Homo sapiens: one gene and its partners. The protein of the gene in region 4 purifies or fractionates together with the protein of the main gene of each other region. This does not show direct contact. Each region holds a gene or a part of one and is shown on either strand. Other genes may lie near its edges. The genes, in order: DBN1, TBC1D2B, GAN, PAK5, TANC2, ARHGEF2 and FAM83B.

What was found.
Region 1: the proteins of PAK5 (region 4) and DBN1 purify together in Homo sapiens (affinity purification with mass spectrometry; one large-scale study listed by BioGRID and IntAct). This does not show direct contact.
Region 2: the proteins of PAK5 (region 4) and TBC1D2B purify together in Homo sapiens (affinity purification with mass spectrometry; 2 studies listed by BioGRID and IntAct, with this or other methods). This does not show direct contact.
Region 3: the proteins of PAK5 (region 4) and GAN purify together in Homo sapiens (affinity purification with mass spectrometry; one large-scale study listed by BioGRID and IntAct). This does not show direct contact.
Region 5: the proteins of PAK5 (region 4) and TANC2 purify together in Homo sapiens (affinity purification with mass spectrometry; 2 studies listed by BioGRID and IntAct, with this or other methods). This does not show direct contact.
Region 6: the proteins of PAK5 (region 4) and ARHGEF2 purify together in Homo sapiens (affinity purification with mass spectrometry; 2 studies listed by BioGRID and IntAct, with this or other methods). This does not show direct contact.
Region 7: the proteins of PAK5 (region 4) and FAM83B purify together in Homo sapiens (affinity purification with mass spectrometry; one large-scale study listed by BioGRID and IntAct). This does not show direct contact.

Annotation. Positions count from the first base shown.
Region 1 is NC_000005.10:177,456,635-177,460,134, forward strand, and holds part of DBN1 (drebrin), read right to left. Parts: intron 3,107-3,500; coding exon 2,969-3,106; intron 2,635-2,968; coding exon 2,464-2,634; intron 2,074-2,463; coding exon 1,424-2,073; intron 1,124-1,423; coding exon 1,021-1,123; intron 870-1,020; coding exon 799-869; 3' UTR 1-798. UniProt on the Homo sapiens protein: Actin cytoskeleton-organizing protein that plays a role in the formation of cell projections. Required for actin polymerization at immunological synapses (IS) and for the recruitment of the chemokine receptor CXCR4 to IS.
Region 2 is NC_000015.10:78,011,712-78,015,211, forward strand, and holds part of TBC1D2B (TBC1 domain family member 2B), read right to left. Parts: intron 1,607-3,500; coding exon 1,112-1,606; intron 1-1,111. UniProt on the Homo sapiens protein: GTPase-activating protein that plays a role in the early steps of endocytosis.
Region 3 is NC_000016.10:81,356,462-81,359,961, forward strand, and holds part of GAN (gigaxonin), read left to right. Parts: intron 1-323; coding exon 324-541; intron 542-1,348; coding exon 1,349-1,470; intron 1,471-3,500. UniProt on the Homo sapiens protein: Probable cytoskeletal component that directly or indirectly plays an important role in neurofilament architecture.
Region 4 is NC_000020.11:9,829,077-9,832,576, reverse strand, and holds part of PAK5 (serine/threonine-protein kinase PAK 5), read left to right. Parts: intron 1-3,500.
Region 5 is NC_000017.11:62,972,735-62,976,234, reverse strand, and holds part of TANC2 (protein TANC2), read right to left. Parts: intron 1-3,500. UniProt on the Homo sapiens protein: Scaffolding protein in the dendritic spines which acts as immobile postsynaptic posts able to recruit KIF1A-driven dense core vesicles to dendritic spines.
Region 6 is NC_000001.11:155,947,548-155,951,047, forward strand, and holds part of ARHGEF2 (rho guanine nucleotide exchange factor 2), read right to left. Parts: coding exon 3,282-3,500; intron 2,936-3,281; coding exon 2,752-2,935; coding exon of another isoform or gene 2,722-2,751; intron 469-2,721; coding exon 395-468; 3' UTR 1-394. UniProt on the Homo sapiens protein: Activates Rho-GTPases by promoting the exchange of GDP for GTP.
Region 7 is NC_000006.12:54,943,185-54,945,599, reverse strand, and holds the end of FAM83B (protein FAM83B), read right to left. Parts: 3' UTR 501-2,415; downstream 1-500. UniProt on the Homo sapiens protein: Probable proto-oncogene that functions in the epidermal growth factor receptor/EGFR signaling pathway. Activates both the EGFR itself and downstream RAS/MAPK and PI3K/AKT/TOR signaling cascades.

The DNA of each region.
Region 1 (3,500 bases), on a different chromosome or scaffold from region 4:
AGACATGAGCACGACCCGTTACAGAAGTTTGTGCTTTCCAAAAAAAAAAAAAAAAAAAAAAAAAAAACAGTTACTAAACGTGAAAAAGGAACCCAAGCAAAGAGGAAGGAGTTGGGGAGGGGCCACCAAAGCCCCTGGGCCCCATCCATAGCCCTGACCTGAACCGCGCCTAGGGCCTCCAACCTGGGACCTGCCCGGCAGGAGACGGGGGGTAGCCGAGGGGCCCCAGCTGGGCCTGCTACTTCCTTTGGGCCAGACAGGAAGGGGTCAAAAGAAGGGCGGGGAGGGGGTCCCAGGGAGCCAGAGCCCACGAGCCATTTATTGCCATGTTTTAAAATTCGTGCAAAATATCTGAAGCCCTGGACAGAGAATACAAAGTGATATTTTCCCAAGAAACATAAAACTAGGAAAAGAGGTGGGGGACATTTTCCCACCAGAGCTCCCCCCACGCCAGGCCCCAAGCAGGGTGAGGCCTCCAACCCGGCCAGCTGAGCAGGGAGGACTAAGAGCTACAATCTGGACCAGGGAAGGAGGGGTGGAATTTGCAACAGCGTCTCAACTACCAACGAGAGGAAAGCCAGTCAACTGTACAAGTCTCCTATCAACTTTTTAAAAAAAGAGAAAAGCTGTAAAAGTCAGGCCCTGTGGGTAGGGAAGCGGCCAAGTCCCCAGCCAGGGCCGGAATCCGGAGTGGGTGCCAGGCGGAGCTGCTGCGAATGCAGGCACGGCGGGCCGTCTGGCCAGAGGCTGATGCAGGTGGGCGGCCTTGGCAAGGGTAGCCTAGGGCTGGCGCCACCGCTAATCACCACCCTCGAAGCCCTCCTCCTCTTCTGGAACTGGGTCTGCATCCCAGCATGTGATGTCGATCTCTGTGGCGTTAGAAAGGGAGAGGAGTTAGGGACCTAGCAGACCGCTTGTGTCCCCAGCCTCTGTGAGCGGTGGGTAGTGGTGGGGTGGCTACCCACACTCAAATCCAGCCCCCGCACCCAAATTCCTCCCCATCATCCAGCCCAGTACTACCTGGAGGCTTGTTGTAGAACACAGGAGGCGGAGCCTTGGCACAGAGCTCTTCCGATTGGGCAAACTCCTCCTCCTGTGATTGACTGAAGTACCCCTCACTGGCCTGCAGGGGAAAGCATCAGGTCACTTGGCCCCACCCAGCAGGACTGGGGCTGACCTATCAGGCCTGAGCCCGTTTCCCCAGCAACCAATGATTCCATCAGTGGTTGCCAGGGAAACAAGGATGCCTGCCTTGGGAACAAAAGCAGAGCCGGCCCAGGGAGGGAGGGTGGGATGGACTTCCCCTCAAATAATGTGGGTCACAGAGAAGGGGGTACTGGTGCAAGCATGAGGAATGCAGGGCCAGCACCCTGCTCAGCCCCCACTCCCTCCCATCCCTCCCACCAGGCAGTCCCTGCCGCACCTGGGTCCCCTCCTTCTGGGTGGTCTCGCCATTGGTTAGCAGGTGGGGCTCCGGCTCCTGCTCTTGCTCCAGCTCCTCAAGGGCTGAGGGCAGAGTTGGGGTCTGGGGGGCAGCCAGGGACTCCCCTTCCACTTCCTCTGGGTCACAGAAGGTGGCTGGCGGCTCAGGCAGCTCATCAAAGTTGAGAAGGGTGGCACAGCCTTCGCCTGCTGGCAGCAGTGGCTCCGGAGCCACCTCATCCAGCAGGGGCACCTCTGCCAGGGTGACCTCAGTACCCGAGGGTGGCGTGGGGGCCCTGGGCTCACCCTGGAGTGTGGAGGCCCCTTCCCCGTTGCCAGGCCATAGGTCAATGAGGCTGGTGGCGGCGGGGGGTACGTTGTTGGCAACAGTGGTGTCAGCAGTGGCAGTGTCAGTTTCAATGGTGTCAGCTGCATCGTGGATCTCCGTGGCGTCAGCTGTGGCAGGCTCCACGGGAGCAGCCAGGACAGCCTGCTCTGCAGACTCCATGAACATCAAGTCCTCTGCAGGGCTGCCTGGCCCCCGGGGAGGCGCCTGTGCCTGAGGGGGCTCCTCCATGGGGCCGGCCCAGGCCTGAGGGGCTGCTGCTCTGGTCTCCTCACTGTCTAGGATGGGGCTGGGCTCCTGGGTCTCTGTCACAGCACAGGCAGAGGAGATATGTAACCGGCTCCCCTCGGGGAGGATGGAGACCCTGCCCACCCACTAAGGAGTGAGGGAGCCAGGGACTTCCATGCAGGTGTCCCACTGCCCCCTTACCCAGTGACCCCAGTGACTTTAAGCCCCTTGGCAGCTCCGGGAGGAAGGCCAAGGCCCGATTCCCACTTGAGAGGGCGGGTGCTAAGCTTTAGAGAGGGCAGGTCTGACTGTACACCAGGGCTCCTCCCCACACAGCCGCCTCCAGGGCAGTGCAGTCTTGGTGATGGGTGGCCCAGATCCCTGGAGAACGGTTACCATGGCAACCTGGGGCTCCCAGCCAGGGACTGATGATGGGAGGCCTGGTGCAGGTAGCATCCCTCTCTCACCTTGGGCTGGTGGGGGTGGCGGTGGCAGTGGTGGAGGCTGCGAGGAGGTGACCTCATCCAGGGCCCGCTCTATCTGCTCAGCGACAGGGGTGGAGGCGGTGCTGGAGTCAGACGGGCTCCGCGTGGGGATGGGAGTGGGCGCCATCCTCCGGTGGCTGTCCAGGTGGCTGCCTGTGGAACAAACCCCAGGTGGGTCAGTGAGGGCGGGGGAGCCGGGTGAGACAGGATTGTCCACCTTGGGGCCTGGCCAGCACCTCCTCTCTGGAATCTGGGTGGGGGCTGGGAGCTCTCCAGCCCCACCAGGGGCCAGACTACAGCTCCAGACCCTGTAAGCTAGGCCCCTGGAGGCCAGTGCCCCATAAGGCCAGGGGCAAGAGGCAGGCAGTGCCTGCCCTGGGGGCAAACACCAGAGATCAGCGGTCAGACTGGGGGAGTGAGGGCGGGGGGCTGCTGGGAAGCGGGGCCCTCCTTACCACCCCCGCCGAGGCCTGGGGCTGCTACCTACATGGGAGGGAGGAAGAGAGGTTTGGGGTGCGGTGGCAGGTGATATAGGGAAAGGGAGTCCGTGGAGGGGAGGAGGAGGAAGAGGAGGAGGAGGAAGGCCCACTGTCCGATGCCTTTATGAAAGGGCAGTACGGACGACCTGCCGAGAGAGACAGACAGAGAAAGAGACAGAGGACAAGAGAGGGTCAGTCTCCCCCACCCCTGCCCGAGGCCTCTCCCGCCCCCAGGGCCTGGCCCTGGATGTCCAAGCTGCCTTCAGCCAGGGGCACAATCAGCCAAGCCAGCCGCAGCCTCACACCAGCCCCAGACACACAGCCAGCCTGGGAGCAGTACAGCAGGGACGGCCTGTGGCGGGACCCCAGCATGGGGCAAGCACACTCAGACCAGCAGACAGGGCAGGGAAGAGCTTCAGGAGAGGCGGAAGCAGCACACTGAGAAGCGGAACGGGGACACCTGGGTGCAAGCTCCGGGAGGCTCCCTCAGGCCCGGGGCAAGAGCCCAGCACGCATGCATTCCGGCCTTCCAGGCCAGAC
Region 2 (3,500 bases), on a different chromosome or scaffold from region 4:
AATGCTGGCTCACTGCAACATCTGCCTCCCGGGTTCAAGTGATTCTCTTACCTCAGCCTCCCGAGTAGCTGGGATTACAGGCATGTGCCACCGTCTGGCAAATTTTTGTATTTTTAGTAGAGACAGGGTCTCACCATATTGGCCAGGCTGGTCTTGAACTCCTGACCTCAGGTGATCCGCCTGCCTCGACCTCCCAAAGTGCCAGGATTACAGGTGTGACCCACCGCACACAGCCAATTTTTTTGTAGGGACGGGGTTTCACCATGTTGCCCAGGCTGGTTTCAAACTCCCGGGCTCAAGCGATCCTTCCACCTTGGCCTCCCAAAGTGTTGGGATTACAGGTGTGAGCCACTGCACTGGACCTTTATCCATATTTTTAACAAGCCTGCTTACCTACTTTCATTACACAGAAATATAAATGGACAACTGCAAGGACAGCAGTAAGCAGAAAGCGCGCCAGCCAGGTAAGAAGCAGTCACAGCAAAGTCCAGTGACAGGAAGAGCTTTGTGGGGAGCAAACCTCAGTCCTCCTGAGGTCTTGTCCCATCCCTGCACAGCTCAGGAGGATGAGCCTACATCACCCAGAAAACATGAGAGGCTTTTCGGCATCCTCTGCCTATGGAAGTAGGGAAGTAGGCAAGACCTGTTAAAAGTTCTAGTTTAAAAGGAAACAAGTTTAAGTCCATGAAGGGCTAAGTTTCAGTCAGCTGAATAATTGTTTGGGGCAACCTCTTGATTCACAAAAAGATCCTGTATACTGCATAAACAACGGGTGACCACCAATTTCCACTCCATGCATTACAAACTAATAAAATCAAACTTCTGATCAAAACCCGAGTGCGATGAGAACAAACAGGAAAAAATGAGACTCCAAGTAGTTTCAAATGAATTTAACTCTTGTGTTCTTAATACTTTCTAAAAGCATGCTTTTTCTCTCAGTTCTTCTAGAACTGGGGATATTGTGTAATGAAAACTGGCTTGCTGCAACTACTTTTTTCTCTTAAAATATTGACTTTTCTTGGCCAACCAGGAAGGGAGGGAGCTGCCAGGCAGCACCGGTGCCTACAAGTTGCCTAATGGCAAATGGGAACATTTTGTGCTGTGCACCCACCTGTTTAGGCCTTGACAGTAGCCGATATCTGGATTCCGCCAGGAGAAGGCGAGGAGGACATTGCGTAACTTCTGTATGCCTTCTGAGGTGGGGCAGGAGTAATGTTTGTTGTTGGGCAGAGTTCGCAGCAAGTCCAGCTCAATCTGCTTGGAGGCTGGGTTCTGTTTCTCCAGCGCCTTCTGCAGCAAGGTCTGGAAGTGGCCAGGCTCAGTGTTGTCCTTGAACTTCCTGGTGTGACGGTCCACACACCACTTCCACACCTTGGAACGGTGCTCGTGGGGAATGCCCGCACGGATGAGGTTTTTTAACTCTGGAGAGCACATCATCTCCCTGTTCACTGTACTTGCAAAATAGTTTTCCCACTTGACCCCAGTGGAGACTTCCTGGTTTTCTGTGAGGTAGAGAGTCTTCAGATCCAACGCGCGGACCTTGGCAACCAATTTCTCTTCCTCATCATCCTCAGGTACAGTCCTGAACCCATAAATATCATATTCACTGTTGATAAAAACAAAAGGAAAAATTAAAATGACAAAGTTTTAGCAACAAAGACCAATGCAACAGAAATAGAGAGTCTAGAAACCAAATCAGGCACACGTGGTACTTTGAACTATGAGAAGCATTTCAAATCAGTGAGGATATAATCGACTTCTCAGTATATAAAGCTAGGAGGACTGGCTATCTATATGCAAAAATTAAATTAGATATCTACTTGACACTATACAGGGAAAAAAAACAATCCCAAACAGTTTAACACTGAAAATATGAAACGCATGGAAGAAAACGCAGGCAACAGCACAAAAACAAGATTGATAAATTTGGCTACATTAATATATGTGTATGTTTCTTTATCATATATATACACTACATATGTATAACTTTATGCTTAAAAATATCATTTTAAAAGATTAAAAAAAAACAAAGAATGTATTTATAAGCTATTAGGGATAAGGATGTTCACGTCCCAGTTATTGGAACCTGTGGCTGTTTTACATTACATGGCAATAGGAATGTTGTTAATGGAACGTTAATGCAGTTAAGACTACAGAACTTAAAACAAGGAGATTATTTGGGATATCTGGGTGGGCCCAAATATCCTCATGAGCCCTTCAAAGTGGAAGAGTCAGTCAGAGAAATGTCAGGCAGGAGAGACGGGAGGTGTGAGAGGGGCTGGACCTGCTGCTGCTGCCCCGAAGATGGGAAAAGGGGCCACAGGCCAAAGAATGCAGGGGGCTCTAGAAGACGCCAACCACAGCTGACAGCCAGCAAGGAAATAGCGACCTAGTCCTACGAATGACTGCAAGGAACTATATTCCACCAACAACTTAAATTATCCCAGAACCTTCAGAAAAAAATGCAGCCCTTAATTAAACTTGGATTTTAATCCAATGAGACCCATGTTGGGCTACTGACCTACAGAACTATTAAGTGACAAATTTGTGTTGTTTTAAGCCACTATGTTTATGATAATTTGTTGTACCAGTAAAAGAAAACTACTACAAAGGCCTTTCACACACTGCTGCTGAGCGTAAACTTACTCAAGCACTTTGGAAATCAGATCTAGCAAGCAGAGTTAAAGGTATGTATTTTCTATACACTAGGAATTCCACTTCCAGTCTGCACCCTAGAGAAACTCTCTCACGTGGGCACATGGGAATATGGACCATGATGGTCCTTGCATCACTGTAACAAGGAAAAATGGAAAGAACCTAAATGTCCTCCATGAGGGGAAGGAATAAAGACACCATGGTAGATTCATACAATGATGTTCTACAAAGAAGGTAAACATGCTCAGTCGTGTGCATTTGTAGTACCAGCTATTTGGGAGGCTGATGTAGGAGAACTGCTTGAGCCCACCAGGAGGTCGAGGCCAGCCAGGGCAACAGACTGAGAGACCTCATCTCTTAAAAAAAATAGCTCAGGAGTAACTTGTATCAACCTGGATAATTTCAGAAAATAATGTTGAAGGAAATAAGTTCAAAATGATATGTATCTGGGATTAGTATGTAAAAAGGTATCATCAGTCAGAAATACACACTGAAGTATTTTACAGGTGGAATGACGTGACGTCTGGCATTTGCTTTAAAATATTCCAGAAAAGGCTGGGTGCGGTGGCTGACACCGGTAATCCCAGCACTTTGGGAGGCCGAGGCAGGCAGATCACAAGGTCAGGAGATCGAGACCATCCTGGCTAACACGGTGAAACCCTGTCTCTGCTAAAAATACAAAAAATTAGCCGGGCGTGGTGGTGGGCGCCTGTAGTCCCAGCCACTCAGGAGGCTGAGGCAGGAGAATGGCGTGAACCCGGGAGGCGGAGCTTGCAGTGAGCTAAGATTGTGCCACTGTACTCCAGCCTGGGCAACAGCGCGAGACTCTGTCTCAAAAAAACAAA
Region 3 (3,500 bases), on a different chromosome or scaffold from region 4:
CAAATTATAGCTGGTTCTTTTCCTGTCTTTTCCTATTGAAATGGGAATCCTTTAAGGTGTAAAGGAAGCTGCTTGAAACTTTTACAGTGATACCTCAAATAAACTGATGATTTTTAAAAATTAAACTTTTACTTATCAAGACTCTGGGAAGTAGACAGTTAGGGCCAGGAGAAGATATTCAAGCAGCACGAGTGTGTCTCACTTGCCTGGTAATAACCTGAGTGTTAACAGTTTGTTTTCCATGAGGTGGAAAATGTAGATTCTAAAAATGATGTGTTGCATTTTCCATTGTTTTCGCCCCATCTTTCTTCCCTCTTCTGCAGGTCCACATGAAGGATGTTATGTCAGCTCTGTGGGTTTCAGGGTTGGACTCCAGTTATTTACGGGAACAGATGCTGAATGAACCATTAGTACGAGAAATTGTCAAAGAGTGTAGCAATATACCGCTCAGCCAGCCGCAGCAAGGGGAGGCGATGCTGGCCAACTTCAAACCCCGGGGCTACTCTGAGTGCATCGTGACTGTTGGTGGAGAAGAGAGAGTGTAAGTATGAGGTGGGACTTGTTTGAAAAGTGGTGTATGGGAAGAGGTAGTTCCATGTAAACAAGAATTCATAATGCTTTTCAGTATCTAAAACATAATTACATTTGATTTTTTTTTTTATACTTTAAGTTTTAGGGTACATGTGCACAATGTGCAGGTTAGTTACATATGTATACATGTGCCATGCTGGTGTGCTGCACCCATTAACTCATCATTTAGCATTAGATATATTTCCTAAAGCTATCCCTCCCCTCTCCCTCCACCCCGCAACAGTCCCCAGAGTGTGATGTTCCCCTTCCTGTGTCCATGTGTTCTCATTGTTCAGTTCCCACCTATGAGTGAGAATATGCGGTGTTTGGTTTTTTGTTCTTGCGATAGTTTACTGAGAATGATGATTTCCAATTTCATCCATGTCCCTACAAAGGACATGAACTCATCCTTTTTTATGGCTGCATAGTATTCCATGGTGTATATGTGCTACATTTTCTTAATCCAGTCTATCAATGTTGGACATTTGGGTTGGTTCCAAGTCTTTGCTATTGTGAATAGTGCCGCAATAAACATACGTGTGCATGTGTCTTTATAGCAGCATGATTTATAGTCCTTTGGGTATATACCCAGTAATGGGATGGCTGGGTCAAATGGCATTCCTAGTTCTAGATCCCTGAGGAATCGTCACACTGACTTCCACAAGGGTTTTTAAAAAATGTTTTAAATATTCTTTAGTAAACTAAAACTAGTGATGGCTACTTATAAAAAGAACTGTATGAAGCACATTAACTACTGATCACTTATTTACTTCCTTAGTTCACGGAAACCCACAGCAGCGATGCGATGCATGTGCCCTCTCTATGACCCTAACAGGCAGCTTTGGATCGAACTGGCCCCTTTAAGCATGCCGAGAATTAACCATGGAGTTCTCTCAGCAGGTACCGTTCTGTGGCAAATTTTCCTTAAACAGCAGATCAAGTAATGTGTAATCTCAAGGTTTTACAGAATGACTCAGAGCCTTTTAAAGATACAATTTTATTATCTCTACATGACATTTTTAGTGTAGTTCTAGCTTCTGAGACCGTGGTTAGGAAAACCGTATTTTCTGTCAGTCCTTATTATCTCTGTATCTTCAGCACATAGCTGCTTTTAAGAACTACTGGAGAAGCAGTTACTTGATGACTTAATGTCAGGAGAGCAAACTTCAGTGATGCTTACCACTAAGTAGCTGTAGGGCCACACCTGGAACACAGCGTTTCTTTGCACCATGGTAGTCCCATCTTTGAAATTCATGCAGCTTAGAATTACAATATGTAATTATATAAAATATGTTATATAAGGCCGAGTGTGGTGGCTCACACCTGTAATCCCCGCAGTTTAGGAGGCTAAAGTGAGAGGAGCCTAGGAGTTCAAGACCAGCCTGGACAATGTAGGAGAGAAACTGTCTTTACTAAAAATCAAAAAAATTAGCCAGGCATAGTGGCATGCACTTGTGGTCCCAGCTACTTGGGAGGCTGAGGTGGGAGAATCTCTTGAGCCCAGGAGATCGAGACTGCTGTGAGCCAAGATCACACCACTGCATTCCAGCCTGGGTGACAGAGTGAGACCCTGTCTCAAAAAAAAAAGAAAAAAAAAGAGAAGTTATGAGACTTTAGGAAATGCTACTTATATAGGCAATGGCTTAAAGTTATTTAGTATGGAAAATGCTTTACTTGACCTTTACAAGTTTGAAAACTGCTCTACTTTATCCAAAGCTCTCCCTTAAGGAGCTGATAGAAAAGATAGCCATTGAGGCATTGCCTTTGCTGGCTGCCTGTCTTTTCGCCGTGGTCCTGCTCCCTTGTCCACCTGATAAGTGTCATCTCATGTCATCCTAATTGTGGTCAGCAGCCCTCCTGCAGTCCTTATTTAATTGTGTTTGCTTGCCCAGCAACATTATCTTTAAAATTTTATTTTTTATTTTATTTTTCTTTTTAGAGATGGGATCTTGCAATGTTGCCCAGGCTATAATATTTTTAAAGCTATACTGTACCACAGTGCATCATACAAATGGCCAAGGCTCTACCATAGTATAGAAGTGGAGTCATTTTATGAGTCCCAAAATTATTAGTTATTGTCAGTAGTGAAGAGCTGGACAGAGTAGTATAGCCTGCAGGATGTAGGTCTAGTTTCCCTGTTGCATCTTCTCAGAATTAGCTCCCTTACATTTCCCCCAAAATATATACACATATTCCTAATTTTCACACATACACGTCTGTCACAAAGGCTCCTATATGACTAATATTTGAAAGTTTGCTAGAGGGATTGGTGTTTCAGAAACCCAGCAATGGAAGGAGCGACTGTGTACAGTGGAATTGATGGAAACAGAAGTGAGTGATTGAGGAGGTCCTTCCGTTTGTCCAGGCTGCATTGTTTTTTTTTTTTTTTTTGCCTTTTTAAAAATTGATTTTGACTGTTTTTTTGTCATTCAATTTTTCTTCTCTACCAGTTTGGGACTTACATTCTTGTTAATAGTCCTTTAGGAAGATTACCTTAGAAATTACAGCCTGTATTAAGTTAGCAAAGTCCAAAGTTAGTCAGTACCTGTGTTCTCTTCAGGAGAGTTTTTCTTCATTTTCCATTTTCCATACTCTTACAGTTTTAAAATGCATTATCACTAATAAATATGTACAGTAGATCCCCCTTATCAATGAGGGATGCATTCCAAGACCCCCGAGTGGTTGTCTGAGACCACAGATAGTGCTGAACCCTGTACATACTGTGTGTTTTTACTATACATCCATACCCATGATAAAGTTTAAGTTCAGCACAGTAAAAGATTAACGACAATAACTGATAATAAAACGACGATAACAATATACTGTAATAGTTATGTGAATGTGGTCTCTCTCAAAATATCTTACTTTACTGAACTCACCTATTTTCGGACTGCAGTTGACCATGGGTGATAAAACCACAGAAACCAAAA
Region 4 (3,500 bases):
TGTCTGCCAGGCACGGTGGCTCATGCCTATAACACCAGCACTTTGGGAGGCCAAGGCAGGTGAATCACTTGAGGCCAGGAGTTTGAGACCACCCTGGCCAACATGGGAAAACCCCATCTCTACTAAAATACAAAAAAATAGCTGGGTGTGGTGGCACACTCCTGTAATCTCAACTTCTTGGGAGGCTGAGGCAAGAGAATCACTTGAACCTGAGAGGTGGAGTTTGCAGTAAGCCGAGATCGCGTTACTGCACTCCAGGCTTGGTGACAGAGTGATACTCTGTCACCATTAAAAAAAAGAAAGTTGTCAAAACTTTTAAAAGTTTAAATTATTTGACACACTATTCCTCTTGTTTTTTATTTTATGTTTTCTTTTGTCTTTGGTAAGGAAGTAGATGCAGGTAAAATTGTGTATTATAATATATTTCATAGTAATAAAAATTAAAAAGAACCTATATAACTAGAACTTGGGAGCTTGGTAAAGGTATTTAAGGTCCCAAGATAACAGACTATTATATAGGTATTAAAATTAATTATTTTGAAGATTATATAATGACGTGAAACAAACTTCACCACAATTTTAAGTGGAAAAAAACAAAATGCACTACTACATATATTGTATTGTTAATATGTGTTTTGTGAAATGAAAACATCATGCAGGTATATTTAAAAAAACAGAACAAAATTAAAAAGTTAGGCAATCTCTGGGTGGTGGAAATATGGATGGCTTTTATTTTGTTACACTTTTCCAAATTTTAAAAAATGTAGTAGGCCGGGCACGGTGGCTCACACCTGTAATCTCACCACTTTGGGAACTCGAGGTGGGTGGATCACTTGAGCTCAGGAGTTTGACACCAGGCTGAGCAACATGGCAAAACCCCATCACTACAAAAAATACAAAAGTTAGCTGAGCGTGGTGGCGCACGCCTCTGATTTCAGCTACTCAGGAGGCTGAGGTGGAAGGAATGTCTGAGCCCATGAAGTGGAGGTTGCAGTGAGCCAAGATCGCACCACTGCACTCCAGCCTGGGCGACAGAGTGAGGCCCTGCCTTGGAAAAAAAAATTAGTCAATGATGTGTTGTTTTATGAATCAGAATTAAAAAATCCACTATTTTACAAATAAGCAGTGATATACATTTAGGTTGTAATTATTCATTTATGTAACAAACATTCATTGATTATCTCTTGTGTCAGGGGCTCTGCCAAGTGTATCAGCAGTGACTCTTAGATTGCATGCAAATGAAAGAAACTCTGCCTAACTCCAGCAAAAGGAATTTACTAGAAGGATATTAGGTAGCTAAAAGAATTGCCAGGAATGTGGCGGGGGATGGGGAATCCCAAACACACGCACGCGCGCACACACACACACACCCCCCAAAACAGCTTGGAAGCAGATGAAGCTAGTCAGTTCCAGGTCTAGATATCAGGCACTTTGGAAACAGACTCCAGCCAAGAATGACTTGTTCAGAGCTTGACCACAGTCCACTGGCTGCTATGCTTGGGGTTCTTCCCCCACACCCAGCCCACTGGGCATGGGATAGGAGGGGGGGTGCCTTGATTAGTAGGCCCACTACCCCTTTCCAATGAAAGAAACACAAGAGATGTGATGGGTGCTAAAAAGCCAAAACCAAACCAAACCAAACCAAAAAAAGACAACAGAAATGCCCATTACCCTAGGACTTAGGGGTAAACAGGGTTGAATACCACTCATCCCTCTCTTTGCATCCCATAGGAAACATTTGCTATGACATGGGAGTTTAACTTAAGGTTCATGGTCTAATGTTCACTGTGATGTGCATCATTGAAGGTGCAATGTGGGTGCCCCACACAGAAGGTACATTTTCCTCTTGGAGCCAGTAGTGACATGTTGGGAAGAGTGTGGATTTTCAGCCTGATCCTTATATACCGGCAGGAATTTTGAAAGAAAGGTCCCATTTTCTCAGGTAAGAGAAAATCCTAGAAAGGTATAATCTGAAAGAAACAATGAAGCAGAAGCAAGAGGTATAATATGGAAATAGATCAGGCACCAACACAGGTCTAGCCTTCTTTTCTGAATGATCTTACATTCAGCAAGCCCAACAGTCATGTTTGAGTTTAGTTCACCATGAATACCAGCCTCTTGGTTCAATTAACTTTGGTTGATAAAGTTATTATTAACTAAATATTAAAAGATCATACTTAGATCAGTGCATATTCTTACTGCAGTTCTCATGATAAATAGGAAATGTCTGTGGCTGTCCAGGTAACTTAACAATCATGTTGTTGCTTTTATAACTCTTTATAAACTTTTCTGTGAAGAAAGATGACTTGTAAGTGGAAGAGAAAAAAGAGGTAATTGTTCTTCACTTGTGCTTAAAACAGGACAGAGAAAATAATCTTAAATTAGCAAGACAGGTCCCTGTCCTGGTCACTGTATATTAGAGGGCTCTGCTACTCTGCACTCCAACTTCTCAGCACCTGGACAGCACTGCTCCTCTGCAACAAAGACCCCTTGAGCTCTTTGCCTCCTTCTGAGCCTTGCTCTGCATAGCTGGGACCTTGGAATTCACTGCTCATGGGGCTCCTGGGCCCAGTGGGGGTTGAAAAAAGACTGTTGGTGGGAGGTGTAAATGGAGCTTGGACTTGTGGACTTTGTAGTCTCCACACAAGTGCTGGAGGCCATGGTAGAAAGAGAAAGGGATGGGGAGGGGAGCAAAGACTGGGTCTCCTTGCTTTGCTATGTTCTGGAATTTAAGTACTCTAAATTTAAATCTGGCTTCTACGTTGTTATGAAGGCATATTTGTTAAGCCAGGAAGATATAACACATTTAAATTAACATTTTTTTAGCTTGATTTATAGTATTTAAATATTGAGATCTGTAACATGTGGGACTCCTTTTGTACTCTTGTCTCTCAAATGTTAGGATCAGGCCTGCTCAGGTAACTGTTTTAGAAAGGTAACACTCAATTGTTGAGACACACATGCATAATTAGCTAATCATGCAACGGCAATGTAGATTATAAGAAAAATAGATTATACTTTTTGTGACTATAGCTAACATATTGAACAAGATGTGTTAAGCCCACATCCAAGTATTTTACCTATGTATATTAATTAGTCTTCATAAGAACACCATAAAATAGGTCACTCAAGGCAAAATATCATGCAGCTAGATAGAGTCAAGAAGCTCTGGATCATCTGAATCCAAAGGCCATTGTGGTATACAACAATTCAATGGATAAGAAAAGTTTTATCTGAGGTCCTTGAACCTCCGATAATTTAAAAGTCACTAGATTAATCAACCCACTTTGACTCTCCAATACTCTCAAATCCTCAGATTCAGCATTTCTGTTCGTGCAGATTTCCTCATGAAAAGGGAAAGTAAATGAATGGACTGCCTTGCAGTGTTTGGTATTATGATTAACTGAATGTTCCAAACCAAAAATCAATATTTGGTTGTTTGTATAAGAAGCACATTTAACTTACATTTTTAAACAGATGTCCAGTTGTGGGATTTCCTT
Region 5 (3,500 bases), on a different chromosome or scaffold from region 4:
ACTATGATTTGAGATTTTATAGAAAGGATTAAAATTAATTTTTGTCAAGTTAGTAGTGTTCAAAAGAAATAGTCCAAAAAAAATGCATAAAAAGAGTAGGCCCAGCAGTATCTGAGTTTTTCGGTTTACAGTTATTCAAAAACTCTTTCTCTCAGCTTTTATCAAATACTTCACAAAAGAAAATTTAAGGATATGAATAAAATAAATCAGTATCCAAACTACCATGGGTTTCTAAAATGCCTTGCAAGGCTGAAAAGGAAATCAAGACAAGATAACAAAGAAAAGCTGGAGTGACAATGCCAGTAAAAAATTGGGAGGAGCTGGCATATATCAAAAAAGAAAAATTTAGGATACTTTCCACAGGCTAATAAAAATTACCATTTATTAAGTACTAGACATCGTCCTAAGGATTTTCACCAAGATATTTTTCATTTCATCATCATAAAAACCCTGTGAGATAGATTTTTGGCCCCTCATACAATTAGTGACAGAGCAGTAATTCAAACCCATTTTCATGATTCAAAACTCATAAAGTCATATTCTTTCCAATATATACTGGTCTCATCATTGGAATTTCTAAACTTACAACTGAGCAACAGTACTGTCATCCTATAATATAGGAATGTCTGAATAACAGCTTTCAAACAAAGTCTGTCTCTACATTAAAAAAAAAAAAAAATTAAAAAAAAAAGCCCGAAAATGGAAAAGCTGATTCTCTGATCCTGAGGCAGAATATGGGTGTATGTGGTTGGACGGTTATTTATGTGGTTTAATAAGTCTTCATTCCATAGGCCCACTAAAGCTATTTACATTCATTCACACTAATTCACAATCCCAGGGTGCCCTAGAGGATTCCATGGAATTTGAACAGAAATAGAATTACAGAGTACAATAAATATGTATCAAGTTTCTATAACCTATAACCTAACTAGCTGTGCCTTACCAAATTTCAGCAACCACAACTAGAAATTGTGGGATTCCTCCACCCAATGAAAGATTAGGAATAAAGGGCTAAGAAGTGACTACCTTCATTTAGGCAGACAGAATTGCCTGAGATCTGAGATTTGAAGCACATTCTCCAAGCATAAAATGACTAAATCACAATCTCTATATACCCACTCTCGTTTCCAAGTTCAATAACTATAATCTACTTATAAGGCTGGATTAACCAGGGGATTTCCATGGCAGTAAAAAACTGGGGCCATATTTCTTAATGTTGTCAATCTTTATAATCAGCTACGTCATCATATGATAATGCTAGCATGGTATTACAGACAAGGAAATAAGAATGGCTACCTGGTCCAAAGATCATCCATTTGGAATGACAAGTTTTCCACTATTATTGCTTACGTACTTTTCTTTATGAATTTTATGTCTGTAACATTGGCTGATATCTACGAAAAGGAATATATCAATCACTGCCTTTTCATAACACTTTGCCACATAAAGAAAACAGTAAAATCTATCATCATTGGCTTACTGAACTTCAGGGAAGTGGCAAATATTAATAGTATGGTACATATGTTTTTGAACTATATTTTTCCCAGGGGTAGAAAAAATATGTAAGACACAGGATTCTGAATTACAATTTTAGCTTTTAAGGAAGAATATGAAATTTCCATCCCCAAGTCAAAGACAATAGTAGTAAAATTAACAACTTATACATAGTAGTCAATAAATATTTAAATGAATGAATATGTTAATACACTCCATAAAAATACCCCAGTTTTTCCAACATAACTAATCCACCTCAACTTTTAAACTTTACACACAAGGTGTCTGCCTAACAAACTAATATACAAAATCAAGGTTTTTAAAAATATAACAATGATCTTTTATTGCAAAAAATGTATATGAGAAACTGAGATGTGAGCGAAGAAAAACATTCTACTACATGCTGTTCTCCAAACTCCTCTCCACCTTTTAAAGAAAAAAAAAGGAATAGAATCTTGAAACACACTTTGTGAGAGTCTTATTCAGTGTTAGATGTAATAAGGGTGTCATCAGAGAGGTACAACAGGGGCCTGTGAGATAAATCATTACAAAAGCAAAGTGGCCAATCTTCTCAGTAAATAGAAGGAATTATGCCCTGCGAAGCCCTTCAAAAAAGTAGCTGGTATATCTCCAACTCATGATATTCAACGAACACTTAATGGGCACAGGCTATGTAACAGACCAAGGACTGACAAACTTATTCTCTAAAGAGCTAGCTAGTAAATATTTAGGCTTTGCAGGCCGTATGGTCTCGACAGCAACTAGTAGTCAACTCTGCTGCTGCACCCAATACCCAATATGTAAATAAGTGAATATGGCTAAGTTCCAATGGAACTTTCTTTATGGACAATGAAATTTGAATCTCCTTTAATTTTCATATGTCATGAAGTATCATTCCTCCTTTGATATCTTTTCAACTGCTTAAAATTGTAAAAACCATTCTTAGTTTGCAGGTCATACAAAAACAGACAATGGGCTGGATTTGGTCTATGGGCTATAGTTTGGCAACTCTTGCATTGTACAAAGAAAATCATTTGGCTAAAGTTCAGAGAATCTTCTCATCTTCCTCTTGCCACCAGCAAACATAAAAAAGAACAAAATCTGGTTTATCTTTAGGGTTAGTTTTAGTTACAGTCCAGGACTTACTCTGAGTAATATTTTAGATGGTGTGTATATTTCTCTAAACCTACCTCCTGGTGCCTAAAGTTTCCTCTAATTCCACAATAAGAGATGAGGTTTCAAAGGCATAACTGAGATAACGGTCAACAATCCTCACTCAATAAGTAGATAATGAGCACCTACTATGTACTAACTATACTGATGCTGAAAAGATGAAAAGTCACAGTGCCTGCTTAAAAGCTCACACATTAGTGATGAACCAGTCATATTAAATATTTAAAATATGTTACGGCCGGGTATGGTGGCTCATGCCCGTAATCCCAGCACTCTGGGAGGCTGAGACGGGCCGATCATTCGAGGTCAGAAGTTCAAGACCAGGCTGGCCAACATGGCAAAACCCCATCTCTGCTAAAAATATAACAAAATTAGCTGGGCATGGTGGCACATGCCTGTGATCCCAGCTACTCAGGAGGCTGAGGCAGGAGAATCACTTGAACCCAGGAGACAGAAGTTGCAGTGAGTCAAGATGGCCGCCATTACACTCTAGCCTAGGCAACAGAGTGAGACGCCGTGTAAAAAAAAAAAAAAAAATGCGGCAACTACTATATACACCAAGTGCAAGGGGAGAATAGATAGAGAACATCATGCCCAAGCCCACCTGGAGGAGTAAGCAAAACCTTCTTCACTCGGAAGACATTGGGCTAACGCATGATGGCTGTGAAGCAGTTTGCCCAGAGAACAAAGGAGAGGGCAGGAGTAGTCCATGAAAAAAAGAACTTCATAAAGGCATGAAAAGGTAGGAGAATACTACATACTGAAGGAACCACACACAGTTTACTACCGCTAAAGCACTTTGAAGACAGAAGTGGCAGGCAATGAGTCTAAAG
Region 6 (3,500 bases), on a different chromosome or scaffold from region 4:
GCAGCTGCGTGGATGAGCCTGAATATACCCCAGTAGTGTTCAAGGACAAGGCCCTCTGATCCCTATGGCTTGGTTCCCATGTCCCTGGTCCTTTAAATCTCCCCTCTCCCCCCATAACTAATAAACAATAAATAAATAAATTTTCCTAAAGTTGCGGGAAGAAGGCATGAACCACTGGCATCTGTGGTGTAGCTTTCGGATGTCCCAGGGGGTGTTGTGGCCTAATTCCCCTAGCTTCTTAAATGGCCCCAGGTATCCAAGGATCCCAAGAGCTGGCAAGGACAATTTGCAGTTCTTTCAAATGTTCCCTCATCATTGGCAAATTGGAGTCCCCAAGGTTAGCCCCCTCAGTAATGTTCTTCAGTGGGGCACGGGGCAGGGGGGAGGGGCCCCCTTAGCTCTCGGAGGCTACAGCCTCCCCGTCGCGGCTCTCCGTCTCCTCCGGGATGTCCTGCATTCTGGTAAAGTCTGAAGGGGGACAGGACAAAGCCAGTGAGTTAGCAGAGACTCCCATGAGGAACTGTACCCCTAGACTAATGCCTCCCCATCTGCAGGCTCAGGGGGCTCTGGGGCTGTGAAGGGATGACAGGGTTCTGTAAATTCTTGGGTGAGAGGAAAACCTTTGGCAACAAAGTAAGCAAGGTATCCATACCTAGGTACCGGATACACTTTTACAGTATCCAAAGATACAATTTGATTAGGAAAATACAAAATACTTTAAGGTTAAAGCTTTTGGTAATTTTTTATTTCATGAACCAACTGTAAAAACTTGAAGTTCTTTGAAACTTTTTTTACTTTAAAAACTGGCCCCATGGCTCGTGCTTATAATCCTAACACTTTGGGAGGCTAAGGTGGGAGAATCACTTAAGGCCAGGAGTTGGAGACCAGCCTGGCCAACATGGTGAAACCCCATCTCTACTAAAAATGCCAAAAATTAGCTATATGTGGTGGCATGCGCCTGTAATCCCAGCTACTCGGGAGGCTGAGGAACAAGAATTGCTTGAACTTGGGAGGTGGAAGTTGCAGTGAGCTGAGATTGTGCCACTACACTCCAGCCTGGGTGACAGAGCAAAACTGTCTCAAAAAAAACAAAACAAAACAAAACAAAAAACTATACCTTCCCAGGCACAGTGGTATGTACCTGTAGCCCCAGCTACTTGGGAGGATCACTTAAGCCCAGGAGTTTGAGTCCAGCCTCGGCAACAGCACAAGACCCTCTCTCTAACATAAAAAATTTTAGAGTGAGATCCTCTGTCTGGGTCTCCGGGTCTCTTTCTGTCGCCCAGGCTGGAGCAATCACGGAGTACTGTCAACTCAACCTGCTGGGCTCAAGTGATCCTCTCACCTCACTCTCACTCTCCGTAGCTAGGACTACAGGCTCACTCCACCACACCTGGCTAATTAAAAAAATTTTGGGGGACCAGGCACGGTGGCTCACACCTGTAATCCCAGCACTTTGGGAGGCCAATGTGGGTGAATCACCTGAGGCCAGGAGTTCGAGACCAGCCTGGCCAACATGGTGAAACCCCATCTCTACTAAAAAATACAAAAAAAATTAGCCAGGTGTGGTAGTGCATGCCTGTAAATCCCAGCTACTCGAGAGGCTGAGGCAGGAGAATCACTTGAACTCAGGAGGTGGAGGTTGCAGTGAGCTGAGATTGTGCCACTGCACTCCAGCCTGGGTGACAGAGTGAGACTCCATCTTAAATAAATAAATAAATAAAATAAAATAAAATAAAATAAAATAAAATAGACCGGGTGCAGTGGCTCACATCTGTAATCCCAGCACTTTGGGAGGCCAAGGCAGGCGGATCATGAGGTCAAGAGATTGAGACCAGACTGGGCAACATGGTGAAACCCTATCTCTTCTAAAAATACAAAAATTAGCTGGGCGTGGAGGCATGTGCCTGTAGTCCCAGCTACTCGGGAGTCTGAGGCAGGAGAATCACTTGGACCTGGGAGGCGGAGGTTGCAGTAAGCGGAGATCTCACTACTGTACTCCAGCCTGGCGACAGAGTGAGAATTCCATCTCAAAAAAAAAAAAAATTTAGCCAGGCGTGGTGGCTCATGCCTGTAATCCCGACACTCTGGGAGGCCAAGACAGGTGGATCGCGAGGTCAGCCGTTCAAGACCAACCTGGCCAACATAGTGAAACCCCATTTCTACTAAAAATACAAAAATTAGCTGGGCGTGGCGGTGGGCGCCTGTAATCCTAGCTACTTGGGAGGCTGAGGCAGGAGAATCGCTTGAACCTGGAAGGCAGAGGTTGCAGTGAGCCAAGATCACGCCACTGCACTCCAGCCCAGGCAACAGTGCAAGACTCCATCTCAAAAAATAATAATGAAATAAATTAATTAAATAAAATAAAAAAATAAATAAATGAATTTTTTTTTGTAGAGAAGGTGGGTCTCACTATGTTGCCCAGGCTGGCCTCAAAATTCTGAGCTCAAGCGATCCTCCTGCCTTGGCCTCCCAAAGTGTTAGGATTACAGGCCTGAGCCGCCATGCCTTTTTAAAAAAGAATCTGTTTTTACTTCTAAAGGTTGGGAATCACCAACCAGTTGGAGGAGAGAGGCCCCTCCTGCTTCCTAGACTTCCACCACCCATTCATCATCAGACAAAACAGGAAGTCCCTCCCTAGAGTTACTACAAGCCTCACAGGTCAGTTAGGGCCCATTTGGAAGCCACAGCCCAATGGCCTGTACCCAGGCTGCACTCTACCTCTGGTCCATGTCTCCGCCAGGGTCTCACCTCGTGGACTGTGGGGCGGAGACAGACGGCTGCTACCTTCCTCCTCGCTGCCAGTGTCAGGGTCACTGCTGTCTTGCAGCCGCTCTTCGGGGCTCCCCAGTTCCTGCCTCTCTCGGTCCTCAAAGTTTCGATGGACAGAGCGAGTAGTGACAGGTAGATCCAGGCGGTCAGTGCCTCGGCTGGGCTGTGGACAGTGGGCAGGAAGAACAGCAGGTCAGGGACTGAGTAGTGTGAAGATTGGAGGTTCTGCTTGGCTGAAGGCAGCAGCTCTCCCCCCTGGGGCTCACCCATGAGTCCCCTTCAGGAGATCCACCACCAACTGGCCTCTTTCAGCACCACGACCCGAGTTAATTTCCTCCACCCCTGCACCCATCTACATTTCTTTTCAGTTCTCCAACCAGTATCTCAATATCCTTCAAGTCAGTTGACTGATTGCATTTGGGCTCAAATCCCCAATGGCCCAATTTCTTTCGGGCTCCATGGACCCTTATGTCCACCCCAGGTCCATTCACCACTGCAGGCCACCTTACCTGTGGGGGGTTGAAACTCAAGTACAGGGCATCGCCTGCGGGGAGGCTGCGCCGCCGAGGATCCACAGGTCTGCGGGCCCAGGGGGCCTCAGCTGGGAGTGGCTCGGTCTGGCCCAGGGCGGCCAGCTGCCTTCGAGCCTCTTCGGCCTCACGCTCCAGCAGTGCCCGGGCCTGCTCACTCTCCCGGAGCCGGGCCTCCAGGCTGCCAGCTTCGGTTGC
Region 7 (2,415 bases), on a different chromosome or scaffold from region 4:
GGCCAACATGGTGAAACCTCATCTCCACTAAAAATACACAAATTAGGTGGCAGGTGCCTGTAAACCTAGCTACTTGGGAGGCTGAGGCAGGAGAATCGCTTGAACCCAGGAGGCTGAGGTGGCAGTGAGCTGCGATCGTGTCACTGCACTCCAGCCTGGGTGACAGGGCAAGACTTCATCTTGAAAAAAAAAAAAAAAGTAAAAAATTATTTAAAGTAACCACTATGTTACAGTATAATAGAAATAAAGAGAATGTGTATATATAATATTTTGCTTAAAGGAAGAGAATCGCCACTGAATTTCAAATATGAATAAATTACTATATAAAATATAATTGGTAATCAAAACAATGTTTTACATGTGATTTCCAAGTTCATGGAAAAAACATTTAAAAATATGTACACATCTAAATTCCTGATTAGAATAACTAAGTGAAAGACTGAGCTTGAATGCAGAAATGCAGAGTATGAAGATTTAAAAAAACAATAGCTTACAATATATTGATGTTTGTACAAAATTATTTATTATTCATTTATTGATCTAAAAACAAAAGTTCATTTGGAAGAATATTTCTTTATAATATCGTACATACATAAAATGTTGAGCTACTCAGGAACCTGAGGCTGGAGGATCGTTTGAGCCCAGGACTTGGAGTCCAGACTGGGCATACTAGTGAAAACCCATCTCTTAAAAAAGAAAAGTTAACAAGTTGACTCTTTGGTTTATCATTTTATCCTTTTGTTTTAAATATTCTAGAACCCAGGATCTACCTGAATATCATGATAAAGTTATTTTAAAAAAAACAGCAACGTACATGTCACATATATAGTCAATGTAAAGCAATTCTACTTTGCATCCCTTAGCCACAGGCATAAGGCAGAACACAGATATTTCTGTGTTCTGTGAATATCTGTGGAATGATACTTGAATATGTGGATCTTGAGTAAAGCTGAATTCATCCAGAATTAAACTTTTTGCATTATTTAGGTGACACTAGACATCATCTTGATTAAACAAGATATTTGCTTCCACAAGTGTAGACTGACAACATATACCCATACCTGAACACACCATGTCAGAATTATGGCTAATCCCAAACTTGTAATAGAGGGATATCTGTGTATTCGGGATACAGGGTCACTTGCAGTATTCTCTAGCCATCTGCCAAGAACTACTTTGAAATTATACCCATTTTTCTTGTGTTTCTGCTTAAAAACTAATGTACAGTACCATGTAGACAGTAAAAGCTGCATTACCAAACTTTAATATCAATGTACATCAAAGTGATATTATCCGCCCCCCAATATTAATATGGGGAAAAAAAGACAGAAAGTATATGGCTTAAAACTATTTCATCCACAAACTGTGATGGTGTCTGTTTAAAACTTAAACAGTAGCTGTACATTTTTTGAAGTATTATATTCTTGCTCAGTCTTATCCCTGGAGAGGTTTTGGCCACAGAGACTTTGGAAAGTTGTTATGTACATATTCTCAAATATAGATATTTTTGAAGAAAAAAGATACAAGAAAAACAATTTTTAAAAAACGCAGAGAAAAATAAATCTGCTGTGCAAAGCCTAAGTCACCTGTCAGGGGATGATGAAATAAAGCATTCTGTATTCCTCAATTCCACTGAAGAGGAAGAGCTCACAAACTATTTAAAAGGATGTTTCTATAAGCTATCTACATGTCCTGAAATTAAGGAGATTTCTGTACAAAAAGGCAACAGGCTTTTGGTTGTAATTAAACATGATTAAACTTCTACTCTTTATATAATTTCAGTTTTAAAGTTACATTGCACTAAATTTCAGGGCTTTCCATTTCAGAACTGCCTAATGGCTCATTATCCTAATTCCCTATCCAATACTAACAAAGAATGGGTAATAACAAAGTCAGTCTAGTTTGGTTAACTGTGGGTTCTGGGCTTTGTTAGGTTTTCTTTTCCTGTCATATTTTCTCCTGCTATGTTTTCTTTTTCATGGTTTCTAAACACTATGGAAAATTATTTTAATGATATAGATATTTTATACCATTATTTAAATTATTTTAATGAGACAATATTAAAATTTGTCTGAATCTTGCATTTTTAAAACAACAGTATACTGCTCCACACAGCAACTTAGAATATATTAAGTAATATATTTAAAGTGATGTACAAACACTTCACACTTCTCACAGGATGCACTGCTTCTTGAACTCTGTTCTTTGTGAATGAAGCAAAGTCAAGTTAAAGTCTCTGGAACAGATATGGAGCTTATACTTCATTACTGTAAGAAAGACAAAGGGTATCTTATAATCTGAATATCATCCTCAAATCATGGAAGAACTAGCCCAGTAAAACTTCTCATTTTCCCAATGGTATTCTTACAAAAACACTATGCAGTCATATCATATTTGGCACAACTTAAAGAAGAG